2 separate regions of the Homo sapiens genome follow, and region 1 is linked to region 2. The links come from fine-mapping of genetic effects on gene expression. A gene starts in region 2. The other region holds a variant in brackets. All regions are shown on one strand. Distances are between the middles of the regions.

Region 1 (5,233 bases), 61 kb before region 2:
AGCCTCCCGAGTAGCTGGCACTACAGATGCGTGCCGCCACCCCTGGCTAATTTTTTGTATTTTCAGTAGAGACGAGGTTTCACTACTCTATGTTAGCCAGGATGGTCTCTATCTCATGACCTCGTGATCCACCCACCTCAGCTTCCCACAGTGCTGGGATTACAGGCGTGAGCCACCACGCCCGGCCTCTTCCAGTATTTTGTAAAGGAGCCCATGTAACTTTTGTTTCTTTTTTCTTTTGAGTCAGAGTCTCACTCTGTCAGCCAGACTCTGGTGCAATGGCATGATCTCGGCCCACTGCAGCCTCCACCTCCTGGGTTCAAGCGATTCTCCTGCTTCAGCCTCCTAAGCAGCTGGGATTGCAAGCATGTGCCACCACGCCTGGCTAACTTTTGCATTTTTAGTAGAGATGGGGTTTCACCATGTTGGCCAGGCTGGTCTCAAACTCCTGGCCTCAAGTGACCCACCCATCTCGGCTTCCCAAAGTGTTGGGATTACAGGCGTGAGCCACTATGCACGGCCTCCATGTAATTTTTATGTTGGAAAAGATAAACTATTTTGGAAAAGGGGAAGAGAGGACTTTACAGCACTGTCTGAACCAATCCAATCACTTGTTGCCTTGAGTTGTCTTCCATGTTGTCCAAGGCTATAATCTGACCTCTTCTGTGTCTGGCTTTTTCCTTCCTAACTAAACTATACATCAGCCCTGCACTGCTTGTCTAATCTCCACATTTCCTGGCACAGTGCGGGGCACCCAGCAGCCCTCAGGTATGTATCTGATCAGTGAACTGCCTGCCTGCCCCTACCCTATGCCGGCACTGTACCCACCTGCCCGTTCCCACTTAATAGTGGGCTTCTCTCGGCCTGTGGCTGAACAGGGCACCGTGGCCTCCTTGTCAAACTCCATGCACTGCTGTGGCTGGGGTGGTGGTGTGAACTTGAGCTTTTCTGTTTCAGCAGAGGGTGGGTAGAAAGACGAGGAATTGGGGCCGCTGGAGAGGCCGTGGCCAGGCCTGCTGCTCCCTCCCCTTTCCTCTCCTGCCTAGCCAGGAAGGGTGCTCCCCCAAGACATGCTGGCTCACCCAGCACTTGGACACGGGCTTGCGCCTCGATGCTGCCGGCTGGGGTGCTGCTCATACAACGGTACCATGTCCCATCATACACCTCCACGCTGTTGATGCGCAAGGTCCCATTCTTGAAGACCTCGAACCGTGAGTCCTGCAGCACAGGTGAGAGGCCTCAGAGCCTGAACCCACACCCACCTCTCCCTGGAGGCTGCCTCCAGGGTAAGAGTGCTATGGAGGTGAGCACAGAAGAGGGCAAGTGGAGGGAAGGCCCCGCCCATCCACTAGCAACACTCTTCTTTCTCACCTCTGAGATGAGCATCTGGTTTCTGTACCAGACAACTGTAGGTTTTGGTGTGGCCTGGGTCAGGCAATCCAAGTAGCCGGGTTTGCCCTCCTCCAGCTGGCTGTCTTGGGGCTTCTTCAGCCAGGAGGGCACAGCTAGACAGACAGGAAGGAAACAGTGAAGGCTGCTTCACAGGTCTCCAAAACTAAAGGATCCATCTCCAAGAAATCCTACTACCATTCTAGGCCCTGAGTTCAGAAGCCCCATGCTCCTCAGATGGCAGGAGTTTCCCTTTACGGAAGACCCAGGTGCCAGCACCTTTTTTAAAATTTTTTTTCTTTTAAGACAGGTTCTCACTCTGTCACCCAGGCTGGAGTAGAGTGACACAATTATGGCTCACTACAGTCTCGAACTCATAGGCTCAAGTGATTTTTCCCACCTCAGCCTCCCAAATAGCTGGGACCACAGGCATGCACCACAATACTTGGCTAATTTTTTTATTTTCTGTAGTGATGGGGTCTTGCTATGTTGCCCAGGCTGGTCTCAAACTCCTGGCTTCAAGCCTCCCCAAGTGCTAAGATTACAGGCATGAGCCACCACGCCCGGCCACCAGCACCTTTTGAACATTATCTTAGTTAACTGTCACATTAATTAACTTAGTTAACATTATCTTAGTTATAAGCCCCTATGGTAGGCAGGGAGTGGTGGCTCACACCTGTAATCCCAGCACTTTGGGAGGCCGAGGCGGGAGGGCTGCTGTAAGACACTGCACTCTAGCCTAGGCAACAGAGTGAAACCCCCATCTCTAAAAAAACAAAAAAAACAAACCCCCCAAGGTATGTATTCCAACACGCACTTTACAGCTAAGAAAACAGATGTTCAAAGAAGTAATGGTGGCCAGGCACAGTGGCTCACGCCTGTAATCCCAGCACTTTAAGAGGCAAAGGCGGGCAGATCATTTGAGGTCAGGAGTTCAAAACCAGTCTGGCCAACATAGTGAAACCCCGTCTCTACTAAAAATACAAAAACATTGGCCGGGTGTGGTGGCGGGCACCTGTAATCCCAGCTACTGGGGAGGCTGAGGCACAAGAATCGCTTGAACCTGGGAGGTGGAGGTTGCAGTGAGCCGAGATC[A/G]CGCCACTGCACTCCAGCCTGGGCGAAAGAGTGAGACTCCATCTCAAATAAAAGATAAAAAATAATAATAACAATAATAAAAAAAGAAGAAGTAATGGTGATTTGCTAATACCTAATAGTGACAGAATTTAAAACTCTGGTCTATATGACTCTGAAACCCTTGTTCTTCTTATTACACCATAAAATGCCAAGGCGCAGTCCTCAGAAATCTGTTCTGTTTTAGCAACACTCACTCATCCAGTCCACAACCTTCAATACAACATGAATGGTTGGTTCCCAAAACTACATCCTGATTCCTATAAATCCAATTGCCTACTGGCATTTCCAACTGGATATCCAACAGGCATCTCAAACTTTACGTGTGCTAAAGAGAACACCTGACTTCCCCCAAAACCTGCTCACTCATTTTCCCTATCTCAGTCAATAGAACTATCTAGTCAGTTAAGAAAGCCAAAAAGCTAGCCTTGTCTTCTCTCTATACCCCACCCCCATCACACTCGTTCTACCAAACCCTATCTACTGGGGCTCCTAAATATATCCTGAATTTGACCACCTCTCACCCCCACCGCTACTGCCTCTGTTCAAGCTCCTTCAGTATCTCCCCTAGACTATTATAGTCATCTACTTAGTATGGGTCTCCTTGTTTATACTCTTGGCCCTAACATTCTAGTCTCAAAACAGCCAGAGCGATCTTCTGAAAAATCAGTCTTCCACTCAAAACCCTGCAAGACCTTCCCATCCAATGTGGTGTGGTAGGCTGCTTGCAATGATAGTTATAAACAATCCTCCCATCCCTTTCAACTCTTTTCAATGTGATGTTGACACTTTCCCATCAAGAGGTAGAGTTTATTTCTTTTTGTGTGTGTGAGACAGGGTCTCATCCTGTTACCTAGGCTGGAGTGCAGTCACGCCACTATGGCTTACTGCAGCCTCAGCGTCCCAGGCTCAAGCAACCCTCTCACCTCAGCCTCCAAAGTGGCTAGGACCACAGGCGCGTACCACCAGGCCCAGCTAATTTTTTTTTTATTTTTAGTAGAGACGGGGTCTGGCCATGTGGTCCAGGCTGGTCTCAAACTCCTAGGCTCAAGCAGTCCTCCCACCTTGGCCTCCTAAAATACTGGGATTGCAGCGTGAGCCACTGAACTGGGTCATGGTGTATTTTTCTAGTCCCTGGAATCTGAGTGGCCTGTGACTTCCCTTGTCCAACAGAACACAGTGGTAGTACTGCAGCTTCCACTTTTGCCCTCTCGGAACCCAGCTGCCAGGTGAGGAAGCCTGGCTAGCCTACTGGAGATGCCATGTGGAGGAGAACTAAGGCACCCTGGTCAATAGCCCCAGTCAACTGCCAGACAGGTGAGTGTGGCCGCCAGGGACCAGGCCAGCTCACCCATCAGCTGACTGCAAACGTGTACACCCAGCCGATAGCACACCAGGTAGACGAGCGGGCCCACCTGAACCTGTCCACAGAATCATAAGCATGTCAACGGCTGTTGTTTGTTGTTTCAAGTCACTACGGTTTGGTTTTTTTTTTTTTTGAGTTGGAGTCTTGCTCTGTCACCCAGGCTGGAGTGCAGTGGCGCGATCTCTGTTCACTGCAACCTCCACCTCCCAGGTTCAAGCGATTCTCCTGCCTCAGCCTCCCAAGTAGCTGGGATTACAGGCATGTGCCACCATGCCTGGATAATTTTTTTTTTTGTATTTTTTATTTTATTTTGAGATAGAGTCTCGCTCTGTCGCCCAGGCTGGAGTGCAGTGGCGCAATCTCGGCTCACTGCAACCTCCGCCTCCTGAGTAGCTGGGATTACAGGCACATGCCACCACACCTGGCTAATTTTTGTATTTTTAGTAGAGACGGGGTTTCAGCACGTTGGTCAGGCTGGTCTCGAATTCCTGACCTCGTGATCCACCTGCCTCGGCCTCCCAAAGTGCTGGGATTACAAGGCGTGAGCCACTGCACCCAGCCATTTTTGTATTTTTAGTAGAGATGGGGTTTCACCATGTTGGCCAGGCTGGTCTCAAACTCCTGACCTCAAGTGATCCACCTGCCTCGGCCTCCCAAAGTGCCACCACGTTTTGAAGTGGTTTGCTATGTAGCAATGGATAACTGATGCCGAAGCCAAAGTCCTTACTATGCTTTTACAAGGCCTATGGGATTTAGTTTCCACCTCTCAGGCAACTTCAACCCCTCTCACCATCGTTTATTCAACTCAAGCCACACAGGCGACTACTGTTCCTCCAACATACAAGCCCATTTCCATCTCAGGGCCTATCACATGGCTGGCTCCCTTCTTAATTTAAATACCAACTCCAATGCACCTTTTACAGAAGTCTTCCCTAAACTCTCACTGGCCCTGCCCTTTCTCTATCACTTGCCCTATTTCATTGTTCTCCCTTGTTCTACTGGCACCTAAAATTATATTTGTTCATTTGATAGTTTTTCTTACTGGCTTTGTCCCCGCTGTTAGAATATGAACTCCACAAGGAGAGGGGCTTCTGCCTGCTTTGTTCACAGTTGCATCCAGTACTGGGAAGAGCTAGCACAAGGTGCTCGACAAATCTCTGTTGACTGAATGCATTCCCAGAGCTCTCCGTCTTCTGGGCTCTACCCTCTAACACCCAGCACCTGATCTGGCCCTGTTTGCATCACACACTCTCAAATGCCACAGGCCTCCTTCTCAGAGCACAGCAAGGGACACTGGCATGGCTCAGTGTCAGCCTCAGTCAGCATCTGTGGAATGACTGATCAAAG
Region 2 (5,233 bases):
ACCTCATGATCCGCCCGCCTCGGCCTCCCAAAGTGCTGGGATTACAGGCGTGAGCCACCAGGCCTGGCCGCACCCTTGGATTTTGTTATTCTCAGGGAGTCCTATTCCAATTCCCTGCAGATGCCAAGGAAGGACCATACTTTATCTCCATTGCTTGAGCTCTGTCCACCACTCAATGCTGCTCTGAACACCAGGAGTTTGAGTATATCATTTGACAAGTGACAAGAAGAGCACCCTTGCCCTGCCACCATACTTCCCAACAGCTGAGAAAAGCCATCACTAATAAAAGCAACTCCTAGGCCTGAATTACAGGCTGCAGAGCCTTGAGGAATCTGCAGACAGCCTATCCCAGAACATGACGACTCAATTTCCCCAAAGAAACAAGAGCCCGGAGGAAAGAAACCAGGGAGGGGGATGGGAATTGGAATGAGAAGTGACCACAGCTGACTGTACAAGAGGTTGGGGTTAAGAATCCATAGTTTCAAACATCAAGCCTCCTCCTCCTCCACCATATTTATTACAACAGCATCTCAAAGTTTGGAAAGTAACTCTGCCATTTATGGCATAATTACCCAGACTTTAAAATGGTCTAATCCACAAACCTAGCCAGCCTAGGTTCCTTACTCCAGCCTTATTAACAGTGGGATCTCACTACAACTCCAGTTAATTACACAATTAAACAATGAGATGCAAACATCTACTGTGATCTATTAAAAAACCGTTGCCCCTGAAGTCATGCGTCTGGGGGTGGGTTGAGTCCCAGGATTTCACTAGAAGACAGCAGGCGCCTCGGCCTCCACTGAAATTGTTTACAGCACATGGACAGGTTCCACAACAAGGCACATTTGGTGGAATTGATTTAAGGCTCTCATTAAAATGTTCCTTTGTTGAGCACAAGACATCCCCCCACCCCTGAGGAGACTACAGACCTCCTGTCCTAAGCCCTCAGCCTGCCCTAACTTCCCCCAACAGGATCCCCCACACACACGCGCGCACACACACTAAACACCAACCAGTCACCAGATTAAGTCAATTAACATCAGAGTCATCTTCTCATGGAAGGAATTTAGGAATTCAGCATTTGTTGAGCAAGAGCCCCATCTTCACCAGAAACTCCCCTTGACTCTAGTACCCTGAACAGCAGCAGTGAAGGCAGCCTCATTGGGCAGACCCACACACCAAAACCCAACCAGGACAGCCAGGGGGCCTGTGAGCTTGGGCTGCTCGCCCAGATGGCTGGGCCCCCATCCTGGCTGTGCAAAAAAACTTCCATACTTCCTCTGGGAGCAGATGTGGATTCTGCCACGAGCAATAACCACCACACACATCACAAGAAAAACGGGGCAACTCCAGAAACACCTCCTCCAAATCCCTGGAGATTGGTCTCTTTCCTGGGTTACATTTACCTCTCCTTTTACAACTGGGGGCAGGGGAGATGTTGATTCCACCAGCACCAAAACCCCTCCACAGCTGGCAGGCCAGAAAGATATTAGAAAGGCAATTCCTTACCCATGCCCTTCCCATTGCCACCTTCAAAGGAGATGGAAGGTGATCACCTAGGACAGGTCTCCTCGACAGAGCTCCCCAAGAGAAAGCTGCTTCGAGGACCACCAAGGAGTGTTGTGGAGGGTCGGGGGCTTTATTTCCAGTCCGGGCTATTTGGGATGTGCGGGTGGCTTGGTGCTTTCCTGTAAGGCACTTCAACACCTCAGTGATGACTCTTAGGTGTGACCAAGCCAGGAAATAAAAGCTGCGGGAGTTGGGGGGGCGGTGCTGTCTGCCCTGGTGATGAGGGCCACACCCTCGTTAAAATGCTAAGGCCCCCCCCCAAGAAAAGCCAGAATGAGCTCTTTTTGCCTTTCTTCCCTTAGAAATACTTCCTTTCCTCTGTGAGGACAGTCAGGATGGAAATCCAGGAAGGAGCAGAACAAACCCCGTCCGCACCTTTGCAGCCAGGCCATGCCCGATTTTGGCAGCGGCCTTCACACATTAGTCACCGCGACAGCCTGGGACCCTCGGATCCCCGGATTCGGCCCTGGCACGGAGTGGGCGCAGGGTTCCAGACCAGTAGCTAGAGGCCATGGATGGGGGCGGCCCCTAACTCTTCCCTTCTTCCGCCCTCACCCGCAGGGCCATCTGGGGTCTCAGCTTTGCCCAGGAACTCGGAGGAGGGAAGCCGGGAACGTCGGGTCGGCGTAGGTAACAAAGCTCCGCGCTTTGCGCGCCGCAGGTCTGTCCGGCATCGGGCCCCAAACCAGCAACTCTTACCTGGGCCGACCCTGCCGGGTGGGGTGGGGAATTCCTTTTTCTCCATCGCGCTCCCCACGGTGGGTGCGGATGGTCTTTTCTCCCCCGACAAGAAACTCCCCATCTGGGCCCGAGAGCCAGCAACTCTCGGCAGTTCTCGAGCAAACTCTCGGCTCAGACCAGAAAAACTCAGGGAGGCTGGAAATGCGTCCCCGCGGCGCGAGTGGGAGGGGTACCCTGACCGCGTCCCTGGAGGCTTCGCCAGCCTCCCGACACCCGGGCTCCTTGCGCCCTTCCGCCGCAAGCCTGCACCCCCAGCGAGCCTCTCCACTACTCCAGGGCCGTTCCAGCCGCCCAAACCCACCGCCCCGGGCGCAGCCTTTTGCCCACGGGACTCCCGCGCTTCCCAAGCTCTGTGCCCCCAACTCTCGGGTACTCACCGCCCAGCAGCGGCAGCAGCAGGACGCTGAGCAGAGGCAACCGGCGGGGTCTGGCCGGGGATCCCCGCGCAGCTCCCATCGCGGCGGGCTCAGGAAAAGGAGCTGAGGGCGCACGGCGGGCGCGCAGACTGCGCTCCGCGGCGGGCACAGGAGGCGGAGCGCACCGGAGCGCGGGCGCCGCAGCAGCAGCCGCAGCCGGAGCCCGACCCCGAGGCGTCCCGAGGCGTCCCGAGCCGGAGCCGCGCGCGCCCAGTACCTCCGAGTCCCCGCGCGCCGCCGCCGCCGCCGCCAAGCCCCGCCCCACGACGCCCCCTCCCCTCCGGCCCCCGCACGGCGCCCCGCCCCCTCGACGCCCCCTCCTCGCCGAGGCGGGGAGGAGCTCAGTAGGGGGAGGGGTCTGGAGAGGGATGGAGAATAGAGAGAGCAAGGCTCAGGGAAGTGCAGGGGACCTGAGTATTTGCTGTACCCACCACCGACTCTGCAGGGATCCGGGAGAACCTAAGTGACTTGTGCGATTCCGTGGACCCTGGGGAGAATGGTCCATTCTGGGCATACCTGGAGGCTCTGGCCAACAGTTCCCCCAGAATTCTCCAGGTGGGGGCAGGGGAAGAGGCGGGCCCCGCCAACTCTTCAGCAACCCAAAATCTTAACGGCAGACCCAGAACAGCAGGGTGTCCTTAATGTCCCCAAGTAACCTGAAGATGCTGTGTAGCCCGGAGAGGGGCTGAAGTGTGCATGACTGGGGTCTGGTTTGGCTGTAGACCAATCTGAACCCAAAGGTAGAAACACGCTGGGCTCTGAAAGCCAGGCTGAAGTCTGCTAACTGACAAATTCATCCCAAGTCCATCTCCAGGCAGTCTGGGCTGTGTCAGGGTATGGCCAAGTCTCCAGCTGTGGGGAGGCCCAGCACAACCCTTGTTCCAGGCACCCCCACCCCCAGCGCCACCACCCCCACATTCTTTCTTTGTTGTGAAAGCAGCAAGGGGTGTAGGAGGCGGGTCAGGAGGAGTCAAGCTTTAGAAGATGGGCCCCAGCTGCTGCTCAGGCCTCCAAGATATGCTGAGAGGGGATGGATAGTGCCTTGTCTCCCCTCTGGTTCCGGAGGGCCCCCCAGGCCTGTTTAGACCTCCCTTCCCCCAAGCAGCTGGGAGGAGGAATGGCAGCCACAGAGGGCCTCACAGCCAGGAGAAGTGGCGCCAGGACTCCAGGGTCCTGCCACATGGCCACCACATGTCCCTGACAACCCAGTCCACAGCACCTTCTCCTTGGGTTGTGAGCCTCCTTCTTCCCCATCCCCCAGATGCCTTCCTACAGGCCCTGCTGGAGATGATACAAACAACGGGAGGAAGAGAGGAGAGATCCAAGAATCAACACTCCTCCTGCTGCTCCATCCATCACTGCCCCTCACCTTCTGTGAAGGGCCCCAACACAAGCCCTGCTTCATACCCTCTTCAATCAGGACTCAAGTCACAGAAAGGTTACCTGATTCTTTTATTTAAGAAAAGTGAAATACATGGACCTGAAGTGAGACAGCAGAGGGAGGGAGTAAGAGCGGCCAGGGCAAGGCAGCTTGGCTGGCCAGCCCCCAACCCTCTGACTGAAAAGCCAGCAGCAGGCTGCATCTCTGAGGGCCATACCTGCTTTGTACCCACCTTGGGGCCTCAGAGCTAGCTACTCTAGAGGACCACAGGGTGCAGAGAGGGTGTCCTGAGGGTCCTTCCTAAGAGGGATTCCTGAGGAGGGAGCTGAGACCCTAAGGGCAGCAGCAATCTTCTGGTTAAACTGCTCCCCTTCACTGTCCCACCTAGGGGTGGGGAAGAGCCAGGAGCAATGGGGAATGCTGTGAGGGCTGTGGGGGTGGGGGGACCCAGCAGACCTGGGGGCCGGGTTGAATGTCAGCTGCTTGAAGAGAGGTCCATGGTGCTGGCACTGAGGCCCCGGGAGACCTGAAACAGACAACACTACCCCATCAGCTCAGGGACCTCGGCCTCCCAAAGACTGGCTCCTAGAGTCCATCCATCCCATGGTCACAGTGTATCTCTGGACCTAGGATCACATCTGTCTCTGGACCAGTCTATCTCTGGACCTGGGACTTTGTTTAGCCTCTGCTAGGGTTTTCCAGAAGGCCACAATCTGGTGGAGAAGCTACCTGGAAGAACCACATGAATACTGGCATATACTTGTGTGTTGATACAAGAAGTCATTTGCCATTAAAATATCACTAGTGTTTTCTCAGATGGGGATTATTTAATACTTTTCTTTTTCCATTCTCATCTACTACTAAGGCGGCTGCAGGATGAAAAAATAATTCGTATCTCCAAATAATTCTTAAATTATTCATAATTCCAAAGTACCAGTTTACAGAATATTCCTATTTCCCTCCTTATTAACTTATTTGCTACTATGTCTGGCCTGAAACTGTCCCTTGGTGGTCAGCACTCACCACAAGCTATCTGCCTGATTCCTTAATGACTGCAATCCCCTGGCTCATCTTCATCCCAGATGACTCCTCTCCCTTCCCTCTTCCCTTACTCCACTGGGCTTGC

What was found. PIP is the estimated chance that this variant, and not a neighbour inherited with it, causes the effect.
Region 1: its variant is the best candidate, but not a certain one, in a credible set for the expression of PTK7 in coronary artery (GTEx, PIP 0.83).

What each region holds. Positions count from the first base shown.
Region 1 is chr6:43,135,121-43,140,353 of GRCh38, reverse strand. PTK7 (protein tyrosine kinase 7 (inactive)) reads right to left here. Exons shown (of 20, transcript NM_002821.5): 8 at 1,372-1,505; 9 at 1,083-1,218; 10 at 829-948. Among named protein-coding and RNA genes, the nearest start is that of SRF, 34 kb to the left of the region's middle. The variant A/G (reference allele first, on the strand shown) is at 2,485.
Region 2 is chr6:43,074,022-43,079,254 of GRCh38, reverse strand. PTK7 (protein tyrosine kinase 7 (inactive)) reads right to left here and starts at 2,941. Exons shown (of 20, transcript NM_002821.5): 1 at 2,688-2,941. The coding sequence starts at 2,766. It overlaps KLC4 (kinesin light chain 4), which reads right to left. Exons shown (of 16, transcript NM_201521.3): 16 at 4,162-4,633. The coding sequence ends at 4,583. It overlaps KLC4-AS1 (KLC4 antisense RNA 1), which reads left to right and starts at 3,025. Exons shown (of 2, transcript XR_002956347.1): 1 at 3,025-3,560; 2 at 3,988-4,922. RefSeq lists a silencer at 2,854-2,953 and an enhancer at 3,283-3,806.